Homo sapiens: one gene and its partners. The protein of the gene in region 2 interacts with the protein of the main gene of each other region in a pairwise test. Each region holds a gene or a part of one and is shown on either strand. Other genes may lie near its edges.

Region 1 (6,009 bases), on a different chromosome or scaffold from region 2:
CAGGCGTAAGCCACTACGCCCGGCCTAAGAAAATTTTTTTGTAGAGGTGGGGTCTTGTTATGTTGCCCAGGCTGGTCTCAAACCTCTAACCTTGAGCGAACCTCCCACCTCGGCCTCCCATCCCATCACACCTGGGATCCCATGAGACATAAGAGGAAACGGAGTAAAAGGGGTTGGAGAACTCTATGGCACCTTTGCAACTTTTCTGGAAATCTAAACCAGTTCCAAAATAAAACGTTTATTTTAAAAGAAAAAATGTGAATGAAGAATAAGGCCATCCAGGATGAGTGACCCGTGTGCCCGGGACTGGAACCAAAGCACAGACGACCCGTCTCAAAGCCACTCCGGCACCACGGTCACAGCCGCCCCAAAAAGGCCCCCCAGCCCTCACCACCCCTCGCTCTCCCGCCCGCAGAAACGGGGATTGGCCTTAGGCTTGATGGGGATGGGTGTCCCCCAACCCCAGTCAGAGGCGGGTGGCCCAACAGCAGCGAGGCTGAGAATCCGCTTTCAAACCCACTTTATTCTTTTCAGACCAGAAACATTCCTCATTGCACCCCCCTCCCTGCCCTAGATCTTTACTGACCAGGGGCCTCAGGAGGGGCTGAGGAGACAGTGGTATACTCTGCCTCCAGGGACGTGGTGCTGCAGTGGCAGTGGGGACTGGCGCGGCCCAGCAGCTCCAGCCTCCGGGAGCGTAGCTGGACTTGAATGGCCCAGATGGGGGGCCGGTGGCCCGGTAGGGAGGGGTCCTCGTCCCTGAAGCTGTAGGTGGTGGAGTCAAAGCTGTCTTCTGTGGCGGCCACCGACTGTTTGCACACGGGGCAGGAGCGCCGGGGGGCTTGGGAGAACCAGGGGTCAATGCATTTGCAGTGGTAGGTGTGGGAGCAGGGCAGGATCTTGAGTTGGTCGCCCTCCTCATACTCATCCAGGCAGATGGCACACAGGTCGTTGTGCCACGTGAAGGTGCGGACCTGGGCCTTCTGGCAGGTAGACGTCTTCACCGGCCGTCTGTGGCTGCAGCAGGCCTGGGCCCAGAGCCACAGGTGGTTCAGGACAAAGAAGGCTGATACGACCAGGGCCAGGGTACAGCCCAGCACCCAGGACACGGTCAGCACGGGGTGACAGCCCAGGTCGTGGCACGGTGGGTCGTCGGGCAGGAGCAGCGCGTGGGCCGACTTGTTGCAGCCCAGGATGACCCGCAGGTCCTGCGAGGCGGCCTCGCTCACGAACACTGAGGGGATGGCGATCTGGCCCCTCAAGTCCTCGTAGACGTGGGTCATGCTCACGAGGTCGTCGGAGTGGACGTTGTGCACGATGGCCGCCTCGAAGCCGGCGCGCTGGGCGTTCAGCACCTTGAGGTCGAAGGTGCAGTCGTAGCGGCGGATCAGCACGATGGCGCCCAGAGAGCGGTTGCCCAGTCGCGGGGCCTCGATGGGATGGCACGCGTTGGCTGGCTTGACCTCCATCAGGTAGCCCCGTATGCCCTCGGGGGCCAGGGGGACGCCGAACAGCGCCGGCAGATCCGCAAAGTCCACCGAGCTCGAGTTGTCTTCCAGCACGGCCCGTACCACTGCCTGCGCGGGCACCTGGAGCAGCGACAAGACCAGCAAGGCTTTGACTGCCACGAGGGCTCGGCCCGGCCGTGGCCACCCCATGGTCACCCGCTTCGCTGTCTGTGTGCTGCTAGGTCCCACTGGAGGCGGCAGGCATGAGGCCTTTGGGCATCTCCGGGGTCTCCCAGGGGGCCTGTGGCCAGGACGCGAGGGCAGTTGAGTTGGAATGACCGCGTGGCTCAGAGGCAGTGACGCGGCCACTGGGACCCTGCTGGCTCTAGGCATTAAGTGCTCCGGACGGCAGAGCGGCATGCGTCGTGTCTTTGAAGGCCGGTCTCAGGAGGTGCTGGCGCAGGTGGCCTTTCTGGCAGATGACATGGAGACCAGGAGTCACCAGGGTTCTAGATGCCCCCAGCTTCTGTGACATCGCCCTGCTACATTCTGTCCCAGGAGCTGCCAGCTGCCTGGGCCTGTGGCCAATGGATCATTCCTAGGTCTGTGATTTGCCGGTACCCGGGCAAGCTTTGAGATAACTTCTTGAAGGCTCAGGGTATCTTTGGACCCAAGGAGGCCCAGGGATGCTTCAAAAGGGCTGCCGGCCCCCAGCAGTGCAGATTCAGCCCTCACTGTGCGAAGACGCTACCAGCATCAGCTTCTGGAGGTTCCTAGCAACACACTGTAGAAGGTTCAATGTTACCCTTGTCTGAGACTCCAAGAGTGACCCAGACTTGTTCAAGCCACGCCCCCCTACAATGAGATCAGTGCTTAAAACCCAAATTCCTGACCCCCTGTCACCATCCCTCACTCTGCTCCAGCCACACAGATCTCCTTGCTGTTCCTCCAACACACCAGGCAGGATCCTGCCCCAGGGCCTTTGCATGGGCTGGGCCTCCTGCCTGGAAAGCCCTTTCTCTCCGTAGCTGGCTCTTTTATCCGGACTCAGGTCTGAGTCCATATATCCTCAGAGCCCTCCTGGACTTGATTTGGAGGGAGAGTCAAGTGCCAGGGTCAGGGTGGGGCTGGTGGGGGTCAGTGGTCCCAAGTCCGCACCGCCAGGTTGGCCTCCAGGCTTGCACCAGCTTCATTCTCTCTCCCTATAGCATTGCCTCTCCAGCTGGGTCTCCAACTGTGCCCCCTGCCTGAGCTTCAGCCCTGGGCATCAGCCTCACCTCCTCCCCAGTCCCCATCCCCCAAATTTCACACCCTCAATCTGTCTGCAGCCCACTCAAGTCGGATTTCTGTCTCTGCCATTCATAAGCTGTATGACATCAGCTAAATTCCTTAGCCTCTCTGGGCCTCAGCTTCCAGACCTGTAACATAGTCTTTCCCATGCTCTAAACTCTCCCATGGCTCCCCATTGCCCTCCAGATAAAGCCCACACTCTTCTCTGTGGCCTACATGCACCCCTGTGGTTGGGCGCCTGCCAATCTCTGAAGCCTGGATGATTTGCAATGTCCCAGAGGCATCTTGCTTTGTTCACCTCTAGAATTTTGCAAATGCTGTTCCCTCTGCCTGGAACAGAATTCTTGCTCCTCAACTTCACTTTGCCAGGCTGACTACTTAGTCTTTAGATTTTCTGTGTTGGCCTAATACCTCTCAGAGCAGCCCTCAGCCAGTGACAGATGGGAGGTGGTAGATAAATGCCCCCACTCCCTCGTCCCTCTTATGGGACAAATCGAAGTATGTTCTACCATATCTCCTAGAGGTCCCCAGTCGAATGAGCTCCATAAGTCAACGAACCCAGTACTGTCTTGTCAATGAGCCCGCTACTGTCTCCTTCCCTTCCCCACCCACTTCTCTCCCCTCCCACAGCTTCTGAGATCACCTCCCACACAAATCTCTTGTACCATGTAGTGGGTGGGCCCCAAATAGAGATGTTGAACCCCTAACCCCTGGTTCTGACCAACCCCTGTGAATGGACCTTATTTGGAAATAAGATCTTTGCAGAGGTTTTCCTTCTAAGAAAGGGAGAAAAGGCCGGGCATGGTGGCTCATGTCCGTAATCCTAGCACTTTAGGAGCCCGAGGCGGGCAGATCAGTTGAGGCCACGAGCACATGCTGCCATGCCCGGCTAATTTTTGTATCTTAATAGAAACGGGGGTTTTGCTAGGTTGCCCAGGCTTGTCTCGAACTCCTGACCTCAAGTGATCTGCCAGTCTCAGCCTCCCAAAGTGCTGGGGTTACATTTGTGAGCCACCATGCCCGGCCCCTGGTGGCACTCCTGCCCCTGCTCTGTCTACTGCCACAGACGGAGGCCACACTATCTAGAGGCCACTGCCTTGGCCACTGTGGATGGCCCTTGCAGCCCAGTGCTACCAAGCAGAGGCAGGTTTTTCAGTCCAGCAGGCATGAGAGGAGGCAAGAGTGGAAAAACAGAAGCAGAGAGGGACAAATGTAGCGGTCAGGCTCGGGTTGGCTGTGGTAAGCAAGACCCAACCACAGCGGTGTAGGCGTACAGGGCTGATTTGCTTCTGAATGTGGAATGTGAGTAGTCATTCCTGGGATGGCATGGAGATGCTGGGGTGTCTGCAGCCCAGACTCCTTCCATCCACCATATCCTCAGTAAATGGCCTCCTCCTCGTGGGACAAGGCAGGTGCGTGAGCTCCAGCCATCACATCTGCCTCCCAGGCAATGAGGAGGAAAGAGTGAGGAAGAGCTCACCCTGTCCCTTTAAGGACACTTCTTGGAAATCCCAGGCACCACTTCTGCTCACACTGCATTGGCCAGAATTAGTCACGTGGCCATGCCTGGCAGAAAGCTTGCTGGGAAATGTAGTATTTATTCTGAATGGCCAACTGTGCAGCTGAAAACCAGGGCTTCTATTACTATGGAGGACAAGACAACAGATGTTGGAGGCGTCCAACACCACCTGTCACTCGGACACACTTGAGTAACCTGGCCTTCAATGGCTGCCCAATACATATTTGTTGAATGAATGAATCCCCACACCTCCAGCTTAGGCCTCCTTCAGTGGTGAGTGAGCTCACTGTCCCTGGGGATGGAAATGAGCTTTTCCCGGGCCCTTCTGTGCACCAGACTCCAGGCCATGTGGCTTCACTCCACCATTCAGCCACTGTGAGCCTCAGTTGCCCCTTCTGTAAAGAGGAGGCAGCATCAGCACCTGCACTGCGGGGTTCGCTGAGCATGGACGGTGCTAAGCATAGTGCCTACCACGTACGAAGTGCTCTGTTTGCATTTGTTGATGGCCTAAGTGACCTGCCCACAGCCCAGTTATAATATTGGGTGATCACAGCTACTCGGGAGGCTGAAGCGGGAACATCGCTTGAGCCTGGGAGTTTGAGGCTGCAGTGAGCTCTGATCATGCTGTGGCACTCCAGCAGCGGGCCACAGAGCAAGACCCCACCTCTAAAAATAAAATATTGAGTGATCAAACTGTGATGGGGAAAACTCAGGCACCGTGCCAACCCAAAGGGAGGCACCTGGCTTATTCTTTTTTTTTTTTTTTTTTTTGAGACGGAGTCTCGCTGTGTCGCCCAGGCTGGAGTGCAGTGGCACCATCTCAGCTCCCTGCAAGCTCTGCCTCCCAGGTTCACGGCATTCTCCTGCCTCAGCCTCCCGAGTAGCTGGGACTACAGGCGCCCACCACCATGCCCGGCTAATTTTTTGTATTTTTAGTAGAGACGGGGTTTCACTGCATTAGCCAGGATGGTCTCGATCTCCTGACCTCGTGATCCGCCCGCATCGGCCTCCCAAAGTGCTGGGATTACAGGCATGAGCCACCGCGCCCGGCCGCACCTGGCTTATTCTAGAGAATCTAGAAGGCTTCCTGGAGGTGGTGTCTTCTAGACTGAGATCAGAATGAGCAGTGGATAGTGCTATGAACAGGAAACGCGATCCTGGCAGCTAGAACAGCACGGGCAAACGCCCTGCCTGAGTAGCCTGGTCTGGCATCCAGTAGATGCTTAATAAGTGAACATAGAACTCCTTGCCATCACTCAGGGCCTGCCCCCTCTGAAAAAGGGTCTCAGCTTCATCCCAGCTTCCTCAGTCCCCCAACAGCCAGGCCTGGGCCCTTCTCCAGACGCCTCCACGAAAGCAGAGTGGTGCCAAGGACTGGCAGCTTAACGAGGCCGGCCTGTGCCAGCCCCGCCAGCCCCCACCTTGGCTGCTGTTCTTCGTGAGAAGCTGCCGAGGCCCCCTCCTGCCCAGCCAGGTGGCGCCCCGTCTGTGTTTGTCTAAGGGGGAGTGTGGCCAAATGGGGAAACTGAGCCCCAGAGGAGGGGGGCACTCGGGGATGGCAGGAGCCACCAGCACTGCCACTGAGCAATGCAGCCTGCAGCCTGTGACCGTGCCTTGCGGGAAACTCCGCTGACCCCCTGCATCCAGGGCCAGGTTCCTGTGGACACCCCATCTTCTAGAGGGGGGAAACTGAGTCTGTGACAGGGGACCAGACTCACTAGGACTACAAAGCCGCAAAGTGACTGAGCTGGG
Region 2 (7,008 bases):
CTGCCCGCCTCAGCCTCCCAAAGTGCTGGGATTACAGGCGTGAGCCACCGTGCCCAGGCTTTTTTTTTTTTTTTTTTAATAGAGAAGAGATGTCACTATATCACCCAGGCTGGTCTTGAACTCCTGGGCTCAAGCAATCTTCCCACCTTGGCTTCCCAAAGTGCTGGGATTACAGGCTGTGAGCCACAGCGCCTGGCCATAATTTTTTTTTCAGTTTTGTAGAGATGGAGCCTTGCTGCGTCACAAGGCTGGTCTCAAACTCCAGGTCCCAAGTGATCCTCCTACTTCAGCCTCCCAAAGTGCTGAGATGACAGGCATGTGTCACTGTGCCTGGTGAGTCTGCCATTTTTTATTTCATTTTATTGAGATGGAGTCTCACTCTGTTGCCTAGGCTGGAGTGCAGTGGCATGATTTCAGCTCACTGCAAGTTCCACCTCCTGGATTCAAGCGATTCTCCTGCCTCAGCCTCCCAAGTAGCTGGGATTACAGGCATGCATCACCACACCCGGCTGATTTTTGTATTTTTAGTAGAGACAGGGTTTCACCATGTTGGCCAGGCTGGTCTCAAACTCCTGACCTCAGGTAATCCACCCGCCTCGGCCTCCCAAACTGCTGGGATTACAGGCGTGAGCCACCGCACCTGGCCAAGTCTTCCATTTTAAATGTGAGAACATTGAAGTCCACCTAAAGTTACATGGTATCTCATCAACAAGAGGACAGTAGCTGCCATCAGAGGCTGACATGGCCATGCAGCCAAGTAGACATGTTTTTCTAATTGACTGGGAGGCAGAGAGTGGCACTCTGGAAGGAGAACCCTGGGCATGTCAGACGGACCTGGGTTCTGATCCCAGCTCTCCTGGTTGAAGAACTGCCATAGTTCAAGTGAAAAAAAAAAAAAAAAAAAAAAGGTGCCACAGTCCAGAAAGAAGTTTGTTTTAGGAGATAGTCTTCTAGGCTGAGCAGACTAGAGCTGTTAAGAGCTCCCTGAGGGCAGAGACTTATCTTACCTTTATATCCCTGGTGGCTAGTGCAGTTCCAAGGACATAGTTGGTACGCAATAGGAGTGCTTGAATAGGAGATTTGGAAGAGAGGAGGCAGGGGAGGGAACTCAAGAGAGTTTAGAATCAAGAATCCAAGGAGGAGACAGCCTAGAAAGAGTGGGTCCAAGACAGAGACTTCAGGCATGTGGCCCTGGTTCCCTTACTCCAAGCCATTGGGAAATCCTCCAGAGGAACATGGTGCTGTGGCTTTAACTGACTTCAGCATTGTCAATGAATCTGCTCTGCTAAAAGAGTTATCCTCTTGCTCCTGGGCTTGGCCTCCCCCTCCTCTCAGCTCCCCAAACCCTTCTCGGCTGCTGTGATGGGATAATTAGATGCGAGAGCTCAGCACAGATGATGCTCCAGTTGCTTAGCAACTAATGGTTTCCATGGAGACCGCAAAGCACAGCCTCCAGAGCAGCCAGTGAGCAGCTCGGCAGGGCAGGGAGAAGACGCAACTCCCCGCTCCTCCAGAAACCTGGGGAGGGCTGGGGTGGGGAAGGTGGGGGGGGGGGATTGGAGGGAGAAGGGAGAGCTTAAAGGCACAGGGCCCTCTTATCCCTTTAAAATCTGATCAGAGATCTGCCCTCCCCTACTCCACTCTGTACCACTCATAATTTTAGATGGGGATGGGGGCTTAAGAGTGGACCCAACTCAACCCACCCTGCAATAAACCCAACCTCTTCTTTCTGCTTCTTGGTTGTGAATGAGGAGAAAGACCTCCCAGTTCAAGTGTAAACAACTTACTGGTGGGTGACAGGTTTTGAGGAGTACCAGGAAGATCCCCTCACCCTGGCATTCCACCATTTAATCTGTCCCCTCTCTCCCAAGTTGTCCTTAATGTGCAAGAGACCCTCTTTCCATTTGTGCAGTGGTGGTGGAATCAAAAGCCAAGGTGCAGGAAAAACAGAACCAAATTCTTCACCCAAAAGCAGCCTGTTCGGGCAGATTGGGAAGGAACACCTGCCCTGATCCCTGATGTCCGTGGAAGAGGATCCAGCTGGGGGTGGGGATGCTGTTTACCAATACAGAGCAGCTGGCAACTTCAAGTGTGGGCCTTTCAGACCGGCATCATCAGTGTTACGGGGAAGTCACTAGAAATGCAGAATTGATTGGGCACGGTGGCTCACACCTGTAATCCCAACACTCTGGGAGGCCAAGGCGGGTGGATCACTTGTGGTCAGGAGTTTGAGACCAGCCTGGCCAACATGGTGAAACCTCATCTCTACTAAAAATGCAAAAATTAGCTGGGAATGGTGGCACATGCCTATAATCCCAGTTACTCAGGAGGCTGAGGCAGGAGAATCGTTTGAACCTGGGAGGCAGAGGTTGCAGTGAGCCGAGATCACGCCACTGCACTCCAGCCTGGGTGACACAGCGAGACTCTGTCTCAAAAAAAAAAAAAAATGCAGAATTTCAGGCTTCACCCCAGACCCACTGCATGACTGCATGAGAAGCTGCATCTTAACAAGATCCCTGGTAATTCATACGCATATTAAATTTGGAGATGCACTGGCGTAAGACCCTCCTACTCTCTGCTTAGGCCCATGAGTTCTTCCTTTACTGTCATTCTCCACTCACCCCAAACTTTGAGCCTACCCTTCCCACCTTGGCGGTAAGGACACAACCTCCCTCACATTCCTACCAGGACCCTAAGCTTCCCTGGGACTGAGGAAGATAGAATAGTTCGTGGAGCAAACAGATATACAGCAACAGTCTCTGTACAGCTCTCAGGCTTCTGGAAGTTCTACAGCCTCTCCCGACAAAGTATTCCACTTTCCACAAGTAACTCTATGTGTCTGAGTCTCAGTTTCCACTTTTCTCTCTCTCTCTCTCTCTCAATTTTCTGAGACAGAGTTTCACTTAGTTGCCCAGGCTGGAGTGCAGGGGCACAATCTCGGCTCACTGCAACCTCCACCTCCTGGGTTCCAGTGTTTCTCCTGTCTCAGCCTCCCGAGTAGCTGGGATTACAGGCACACACCACCGCGTTAGTTTTTGTATTTTTGGTAGAGATGGTGTTTCGCCATATTGGCCAGGCTGATCTCGAACTCCTGACCTCAGGTGATCCGCCCACCTCGGCCTCCCAAAGTGCTGGGATTACAGGCATGAGCCACCACGCCCGGCTGATCTCTTTTCTATTTTAATAGAGATCAAACTCTCTGTGTTGCCTAGGCTGGTCTTGAACTCCTGGCCTCGAGTGATCCTCCCACCTTGGCCTCCCAAAGTGCTGGGATTACAGGCATGAGCCACTGTGCCTGGCCTCAGTTCTACTACAAAAGGAAGCCAGTACCAGCTACCACCCAGGGTGGCTGTAGGGCTACAATGGAGCACACAGAACCCCTACCCAGGGCCCGGAAGACGTCCTGACTCCTCTCCCCTCCCTCTGCTCAGAACTCCTCTGCTTCTTTCTGATGTAGCCCAGGGCTGGAGGAGGCAGTCAGGGAAGTTCTGTCTCTTTTTCATGTTATCTTACGAGGTCTCTTTTCTCCATTCTCAGTTCAACAAATGGTTGCTGCCCAAGGCTGACTGTGCCCACCCCCAACCCCTGCTGGCCAGGGTCAATGTCTGTCTCTCTGGTCTCTCCAGAAGTCTTCCATGGCCACCTTCGTCCCCACCCTCCAGAGGAATCTGAAACCGCATGTGCTCCCTGGCCCCCACAGCCCCTGCCTCTCCCAGAGCAGCAGTACCTAAGCCTCAGTGCACTCCAAGAATTGAAACCCTCAGTCTGCTGCCCCTCCCCACCAGAATGTTTCTCTCCCATTCTTACCCACTCAAGGCCCTTTCAGTAGCCCCTTGGAGTATTCTCTTCCTACATATCAGGGCAACTTCCAAACTCATCACCCTTCTGAGGGGTGGGGGAAAGACCCCCACCACATCGGGGGAGCAGTCCTCCAAGGACTGGCCAGTCTCCAGATGCCCGTGCACACAGGAACACTGCCTTATGCACGGGAGTCCCAGAAGAAGGGGTGATTTCTTTCCCCACCTTAGTTACACCATCAAGACCCAGCCAGGGCATCCCCCCTCCTGGCCTGAGGGCCAGCTCCCCATCCTGAAAAACCTGTCTGCTCTCCCCACCCCTTTGAGGCTATAGGGCCCAAGGGGCAGGTTGGACTGGATTCCCCTCCAGCCCCTCCCACCCCCAGGACAAAATCAGCCACCCCAGGGGCAGGGCCTCACTTGCCTCAGGAACCCCAGCCTGCCAGCACCTATTCCACCTCCCAGCCCAGCATGGCACCCCTGCTGCCCATCCGGACCTTGCCCTTGATCCTGATTCTGCTGGCTCTGCTGTCCCCAGGGGCTGCAGGTCTCTTCCATCTCTGGCAGGGGTGGGAAGGGGGCTGGGGGCCTGGACAGGGAGCACTGTACCTTCCAGGGCTCTCAAAGAGAGGTCTGGACAGTTGGGAGTCAGGGCTGGTGATGGCAGTGACTGGGTATCAGACACTGGGCTCAGGGTACACTCCTGATCCTCCTCCAGACCTAGGAGGCAGAGAGGTGTGGGCAAGGATCCGATGCTGCGGGGAGGGGTGAGGTTGGGCGCTGCCCGACTCCTGGCATCCAGGTTCTGGCTCTGGGGACCGCTTGGTGGAGGGTGCAGCTTCTGCAGCCCAAGCCTGCCACCTGGTGGTCATACTGGCACAGGCCTGGCTGTTCTGCCCAGGGTTCACAGAGTGGAAAGGGAGATGGCTCCAATGGGACCGGGCCAGATCTGTTGGCCAGGAGGGGTCAGTCCCCATCGGAGCTCCCTCCTGCCTCCCATCAGACTTCAACATCTCAAGCCTCTCTGGTCTGCTGTCCCCGGCGCTAACGGAGAGCCTGCTGGTTGCCTTGCCCCCCTGTCACCTCACAGGAGGCAATGCCACACTGATGGTCCGGAGAGCCAATGACAGCAAAGGTCTGCTACCTTCTCCCAAGGCATCCCTCTAGTCCCCAAAGACCCCTTCCTGCGACACCCTCTGCACCCTTTTCCCCATTCATGCCTTCCTGTCCACCCGTCTCCTGGGGTACCCACACTCTAAAAGCTGCCCCTTCTCCTTGGGGCCTCCAGAAACTTGACCCAGTCTTCCCCTCCCGCCACTTCTGCCCAGTGGTGACGTCCAGCTTTGTGGTGCCTCCGTGCCGTGGGCGCAGGGAACTGGTGAGTGTGGTGGACAGTGGTGCTGGCTTCACAGTCACTCGGCTCAGTGCATACCAGGTGACAAACCTCGTGCCAGGAACCAAATTCTAGTAGGTACTGGGTCCAGCCTGAGGCACCTAGGGAAGGGGGTGCAGGAAGAGAGAGAAGCTAGTGTGGGGGAGATCTGGTGGGCATGAGGAGAGGGTGAGGGCACAGCAAAAGGGGGTGAAAGCTGGGCCTCTTGGAGGAGTGCACATAGGGGAGACACAGCTGTGAGGGTAGGTGGCCCAGGCTGGAGCCCCTCTTCCTGTAAGTCCCAATACTCACTGAGGGTTCTCTACTCTCTCCCAAACCACAAAAGCATTTCCTACCTAGTGAAGAAGGGGACAGCCACTGAGTCCAGCAGAGAGATCCCAATGTCCACACTCCCTCGTAAGTAACACTCCCGCCTCCCTTTCCCATCTCAGCGGCCACAAACGCTTCCCTGACCATTCCTGCCTCATCCCCAGTCTGGGTTGCCTGTGCCTCCCCGTGCGCCCTCGGGGCCCCTGCTTACCTCTATCCTAGCACGGAACCTTCGGCATGGCTACTGCACACTCAGCTAAAGGTTCCTCGTGGGCAGGGACTGTGTCCTCTTAACTTTTCCTCAGCGGCTGACATAGGAGATGCTTCATAAATGTCTATGTGATGGGTGTTTGGATCCATCAGCTGGTTGGTTGGTTGGTTGGTTGGCTGGCTGGCTGGCTGGCTGGCTGGCTGGTTGGTTGGGCAGTCTGTTGGCTGGATGAGTGTGAGGCCGTGAGCCTCAGGCAGGCTGGGGGTCTCTCCCGCCCACAGTGGTCTCCCCTCTCTTTTGACAGGAAGGAACATGGAATCCATTGGGCTGGGTATGGCCCGCACAGGGGGCATGGTGGTCATCACGGTGCTGCTCTCTGTCGCCATGTTCCTGCTGGTGCTGGGCTTCATCATTGCCCTGGCACTGGGCTCCCGCAAGTAAGGAGGTCTGCCCGGAGCAGCAGCTTCTCCAGGAAGCCCAGGGCACCATCCAGCTCCCCAGCCCACCTGCTCCCAGGCCCCAGGCCTGTGGCTCCCTTGGTGCCCTCGCCTCCTCCTCCTGCCCTCCTCTCCCCTAGAGCCCTCTCCTCCCTCTGTCCCTCTCCTTGCCCCCAGTGCCTCACCTTCCAACACTCCATTATTCCTCTCACCCCACTCCTGTCAGAGTTGACTTTCCTCCCATTTTACCACTTTAAACACCCCCATAACAATTCCCCCATCCTTCAGTGAACTAAGTCCCTATAATAAAGGCTGAGGCTGCATCTGCCACATGTGTTTCCCTTTAGTGGGCTCTACCTTGGCTCAAACCTGTGGAATCTATGTCCAAGCTGCAGGTGCTCCTGGTCCCCTCCCTGCCCCACAGCCCAGAGTTACTTTTCCCATGAGGCAGGCAGGGGCCAGTAAGAGCCCAGCAGTCAGAGTTCTCAGAGACACACCGGGGCTGTGGGTTTGGCAGCATCCACAGTACACAGTGGGCCACTCAACTAGGGGTGCAGGTCAGGGCAGAAGCTGGGGCTGGTGCCCCATGTGGAGGCCTGGAGGCCTGGGGGTGGGGGTGGGGGGCAGGCAGAGCAAGGGAAGTGCTAGGGAAAAGAGGAGAGGATCTGTCTGGGAAAAGACAGGCCAGGTGCAGTGGCTCATGCCTGTAATCCCACCACTTTGGGAGGCCAAGGCGGTCAGCTGGCTTGAGGTCAGGAGTTTGAGACCAGCCTGGCCAACATGATGAAACCCCGTCTCTACTAAATATTAAAAAAAAAAAAATAGCCAGGTGTTCGGGCAGGTGCCTATAACCCCAGCTAC
Region 3 (4,303 bases), on a different chromosome or scaffold from region 2:
TAATCCCAGCTACTTGGGAGGCAGGAGAATTGCTTGAACCTGGGAGGCGGAGGTTGCAGTGAGCTGAGATCACGCAATTGTACTCCAGTCTGAGCAACAAGAGCAAAACTCTGTCTTAAAAAAAAAAAAAAAAAGTGACCTTAGGCCGGGCGCGGTGGCTCACACTTGTAATCCCACCCCTTTGGGAGGCAGAGGCGGGTGGATCATGAGGTCAGGAGATCGAGACCATCCTGGCTAACATGGTGAAACCCCGTCTGTACTAAAAATACAAAAAATTAGCCAGGCATGGTGGCAGGCGCCTGTAGTCCCAGCTACTCGGGAGCCTGAGGCAGGAGAATGGCGTGAACCCAGGGAGGCGGAGCTTACAGTGAGCCGAGATCGCGCCACAGGACTCCGGACTGAGCAACAGAGCAAGACTCCGTCTAAAAAAAAAGAAAAAAGAAAAAGAAAAAGAAAATACATGACCTGATGTATAAAACTGGCAGGTTCCCCTGTGGCAGCATGTTACCTGTAGGAGAGATCCGAGGCCCAGCCGCCATTCAGTCCCCCGACTTATTCCCTTACCTCCCCTGCCTGAAAAATGATGAGAACACACTGATTCGGGCCCAAACTCGTGTTATATTATCGAGGTGGAAAACAGCCATATGTATTAGGAGGGGAAACTGAGGCAGACCACAGGACGGGGCTCCAGAGGGAGGACAACTAGGCCCAGAACCCCTTCTGGAGGCTCAGAGATGCCAGTGTTCCAGGAGGTCTCACAGCATGAAAGGGGCCTGACTACATTCGCTTTTAGCAGTCGGAATGGCGGATGGTCAGGCGGTGGCTGGAATCACATTTACATCCTTCAAATCAGCATCCTGGGCCTCCCCTGGGGTGGGCAGGAGGACCCCGGTGTCGTCTCCACGAAGGGAGATCCAAGGGGCTGAGGAGAGAGAGAGAGGGAGAGGTCATCAGAATCTCTGAGGCGCTCTGGGTCTGACTGGCGTCCCCCATTTGTGTGTGTGTCTCACACACTCTTCCTCAGTCTCTATCCCCTTCCTTCTGGGCCTTTGTCTCCCCTTCTCCCAATTTTCCGTCCCCCCTCTTTCTACATCTTTGCCTCCCTCCTCTGGGTCTGTCTCCCCCTCCCTCTGTCCGCACCTCTCTCTGTCCCCTCTGGGTCTCTGTTCCCCCGTCTCTGGGTCTCTGTCTCCGTCCCCCTCTCTCTGCACCTCTGTTCTCCCATCTCTGGGTTTCTGTCTCCACCTCTCTCTGATCTCTGTCCCCCCTCTCTGGGTCTCTGTCCTCCCAGGTCTGTGTGCCCCTCTCTTGGGGTCTCTGTCCCTCTCTCAGAGGCTCTTCCTCCCGCTGCCCCCCACCTGGCAGCCCACTCCTCATCCTTCTCCACAACAGAGCTCCTCCTACAGCCGCTGCCGTGAGTAGCAAGACACCGATGACGATTCCCACCACGAGCACGGAGGACTTGGCTGGAGATTCTGCAGCCAGAGAACGCTGTGAGATGTGGAGCAGCCCCTCCACCCCACCCAGTCAGGACACAGAACTGGGGCGCTCCCAGTCCCTCCCAGCCTCGGAGATTCCAGCACCAAGTGTCTGATGGGCAGAGGCGAGGCCAGGCAGGCGATCTGGGCAGACTGCCCCCAGGTTGGACGTAAGAACCAGCTACAGCACGAGCGGCCGCGGTCACACCGGCAATGGATCAGCAGCGGCAAGGCGGGGCTGTGCCAGTGCAGTGGGGAGAGGCAGGCAGAGCAGTGGGAAGTCAGTCTCATGGGCCCGGGCAGTAGCAAAGCAGCAGGCAGTCAGTCTTGGTGAGGACGGGCATAGCAGACAACGAATGGTCAGATTCCAGGAAGACCCGCAGCAGCAGCAGCAGCAGCAGCAGGATGGAAGATGGTCAGACTCAGGGAGGACTGGCCATGGTAGTTAACAGCTCTTCAGACTCAGTGAGGCCAGAAGCAGCAGGAGACGGAAGGCAGTTGGCCTTGGGAAGGACAAGCCATCAGGTTTTGGGGGCACTGACAGGCGTGAGGTTCAAGGCAGTCAGATTCAAGGAGGTGGCAGCAGTGGGGAGGAAGGTCAGACTCAGGAAGGACCGGCGCAGCAGTGAGACAAGGCAACGGGAAACCAGGAGCATCACCACCTGGCGGGACCTCACCCAGCTCCACCCTGAGGGGCTGCGCCAGCCCCGCGTGCTGCACAATGCAGCAGTAGTGGTGCTCATCGCCACTTTTGACTGTTAGTGACGACGAGGCGTGGAAGGATCCGTCACTGTTGGGGCCGAAGTCACCCTGGCCGGTGCCAGCGGCCAGCCCATTCCGCAGGAACCGAAGTTGCAGCTCCGGAGGGTAGAAGGAGAAGGCGCTGCAGGTAAGCACGGAAAAGCCAGGGCTGCTGGGTCGGGCCTTCAGGCGCATGGAGGGGGGCTCTGCAGGAAATCAGGCAGACAGGCCTAAGTCGCGAGCCCACCACTCCCAGAGCCAGGGCTGGATAGGGACAGAAAGAGGCCTCCATGTTTGCACTGTGCTAACCGCAGATAATACAGTGGTAAAAGGGGAGGCACTTCCTAGGTGACAGAGACTCAACCTGTCCACCCCGAAGGTGTCCCCTCAAGATGTCACCTCCTTGGGCTGGGCATGTTGGCTCACGCCTGTAATCGCAACACTTTGGGAGGCCAAAGTGGGTGGATCACCTGAGGTCAGGAGTTCGAGACCACACTGGCCAACATGGTGAAACCCCATCTCTACTAAAAATACAAAAATTAGCCGGGCACCTGTAGTCCCAGCTACTCAGGAGGCTGAGGCAGGAGAATTGCTTGAACCTGGGAGGCAGATGTTGCAGTGAGCCAGGATCGTGCCACTGCACTCCAGCCTGGGCGACAGAGTGAGACCCCGTCTCAGAAAAAAAGAAAAAAAAAAAAAGATAGAGGATAATTATGAAAAATTCCACAGCAACACATTTGAAAATTTAGATGAACTGAACACATTCCTGATAAATACAACCTTCTAAACTGACACAAGAGGAAATTTAAAACGTCTGTAGTCCTATAACTATTTAAATTTTTTTTTTTTTTTTGAGATGGAATCTTGCTCTGTCTCCCAGGCTGGAGTGCAGTGGCGCGATCTCGGCTCACTGCAAGCTCCGCCTCCTGGGTTCACGCCATTCTCCTGCCTCAGCCTCCTGAGTAGCTGGGACTATAGGTGCCCACCACCACACTTGGCTAATTTTTTGTATTTTTAGTAGAGACGGGGTTTCACCGTCTTAGCCAGGATGGTCTCAATCTCCTGACCTCATGATCCATCCGCCTGGGCCTCCCAAAGTGTTGGGATTACAGGTGTGAGCCACCACGCCTAGCCTTTTGTTTTTGAGATAAGAGTCTCGCTCTGTCACCCAGGCTGGAGTGCAGTGGCACGATCTCGACTCACTGCAACCCCCACTTCCTGGGTTCAAGAGTTTCTTCTTCCACAGCCTCCCGAGTGGCTGGGACTACAGGTGCATGCACCACCATGCCGGGTAATTTTTTTATTTTTAGTAGAGACGGTGTTTCACCATATTGGCCAGGCTGGTCTCAAATTCCTGACATTGTGATCTACCTGCCTCAGCCTCCCAAAGTGCTGGGATTACAGGCATGATGCACCACACCCGGCCTATTTAAAATTTTTAATCCATAGTTTAAAACTTTCCAAAAACTAAAATTCCAGGTCCAGAAGACATCAATTAGTGAATTCTTCCAATGTAGAAATGATTCTATTCCTACACTAACTCTTCAGGCCATAAAACAGAGGAAACACTCTCCCAGCATATTTTATGAGGTCAGCATCATCTTGACAACAAAGCACATTATAAGAAAGAGAACTTGGCCAGGCGCGGTGGCTCACGCCTGTAATCCCAGCACTTTGGGAGGCCGAGGCAGGCGGATCACGAGGTCAGGAGATTGAGACTATCCCGGCTAACACGGTGAAACCCCATCTCTACTAAAAATACAAAAAATTAGCCGGGCGTGGTGGCCGGCGCCTGTAGTCCCAGCCACTTGGGAGGCTGAGGCAGGAGAATGGCGTGAACCCGGGAGGCGGAGCTTGCAGTGAGCCGAGATTGCGCCACTGCACTCCAGCCTGGGTGACAGAGCGAGACTCCATCTCAAAAAAAAAAAAAAAAAAAAAAAAAGAGAGCTTAAGGCCAATGTCTCTCATAAATATAGATTCAGGACAGGTGTGGTGGCTCACACCTAGAATCCTGGCGCTTTGGGGGGTGGAGGCAGGAGGATCACGAGGTCAGGAGGTCGAGACCAGCCTGACCAACATGGTGA

What was found.
Region 1: the proteins of UPK2 (region 2) and ZNRF4 interact in binary tests that used the Homo sapiens proteins (3 or more experiments, as listed by UniProt).
Region 3: the proteins of UPK2 (region 2) and FCGRT interact in binary tests that used the Homo sapiens proteins (3 or more experiments, as listed by UniProt).

What each region holds. Positions count from the first base shown.
Region 1 is NC_000019.10:5,451,351-5,457,359, reverse strand, and holds ZNRF4 (E3 ubiquitin-protein ligase ZNRF4 precursor), read right to left. Parts: upstream 1,944-6,009; 5' UTR 1,869-1,943; coding exon 579-1,868; 3' UTR 504-578; downstream 1-503. UniProt on the Homo sapiens protein: E3 ubiquitin-protein ligase that acts as a negative regulator of NOD2 signaling by mediating ubiquitination and degradation of RIPK2. Also catalyzes ubiquitination and proteasomal degradation of CANX within the endoplasmic reticulum.
Region 2 is NC_000011.10:118,952,083-118,959,090, forward strand, and holds UPK2 (uroplakin-2 precursor), read left to right. Parts: upstream 1-4,215; 5' UTR 4,216-4,268; coding exon 4,269-4,344; intron 4,345-4,800; coding exon 4,801-4,932; intron 4,933-5,125; coding exon 5,126-5,264; intron 5,265-5,515; coding exon 5,516-5,586; intron 5,587-6,014; coding exon 6,015-6,151; 3' UTR 6,152-6,477; downstream 6,478-7,008. UniProt on the Homo sapiens protein: Component of the asymmetric unit membrane (AUM); a highly specialized biomembrane elaborated by terminally differentiated urothelial cells. May play an important role in regulating the assembly of the AUM.
Region 3 is NC_000019.10:49,522,629-49,526,931, reverse strand, and holds the end of FCGRT (IgG receptor FcRn large subunit p51 isoform 1 precursor), read right to left. Parts: intron 2,426-4,303; coding exon 2,156-2,425; intron 1,476-2,155; coding exon 1,359-1,475; intron 923-1,358; coding exon 813-922; 3' UTR 504-812; downstream 1-503. UniProt on the Homo sapiens protein: Cell surface receptor that transfers passive humoral immunity from the mother to the newborn. Binds to the Fc region of monomeric immunoglobulin gamma and mediates its selective uptake from milk.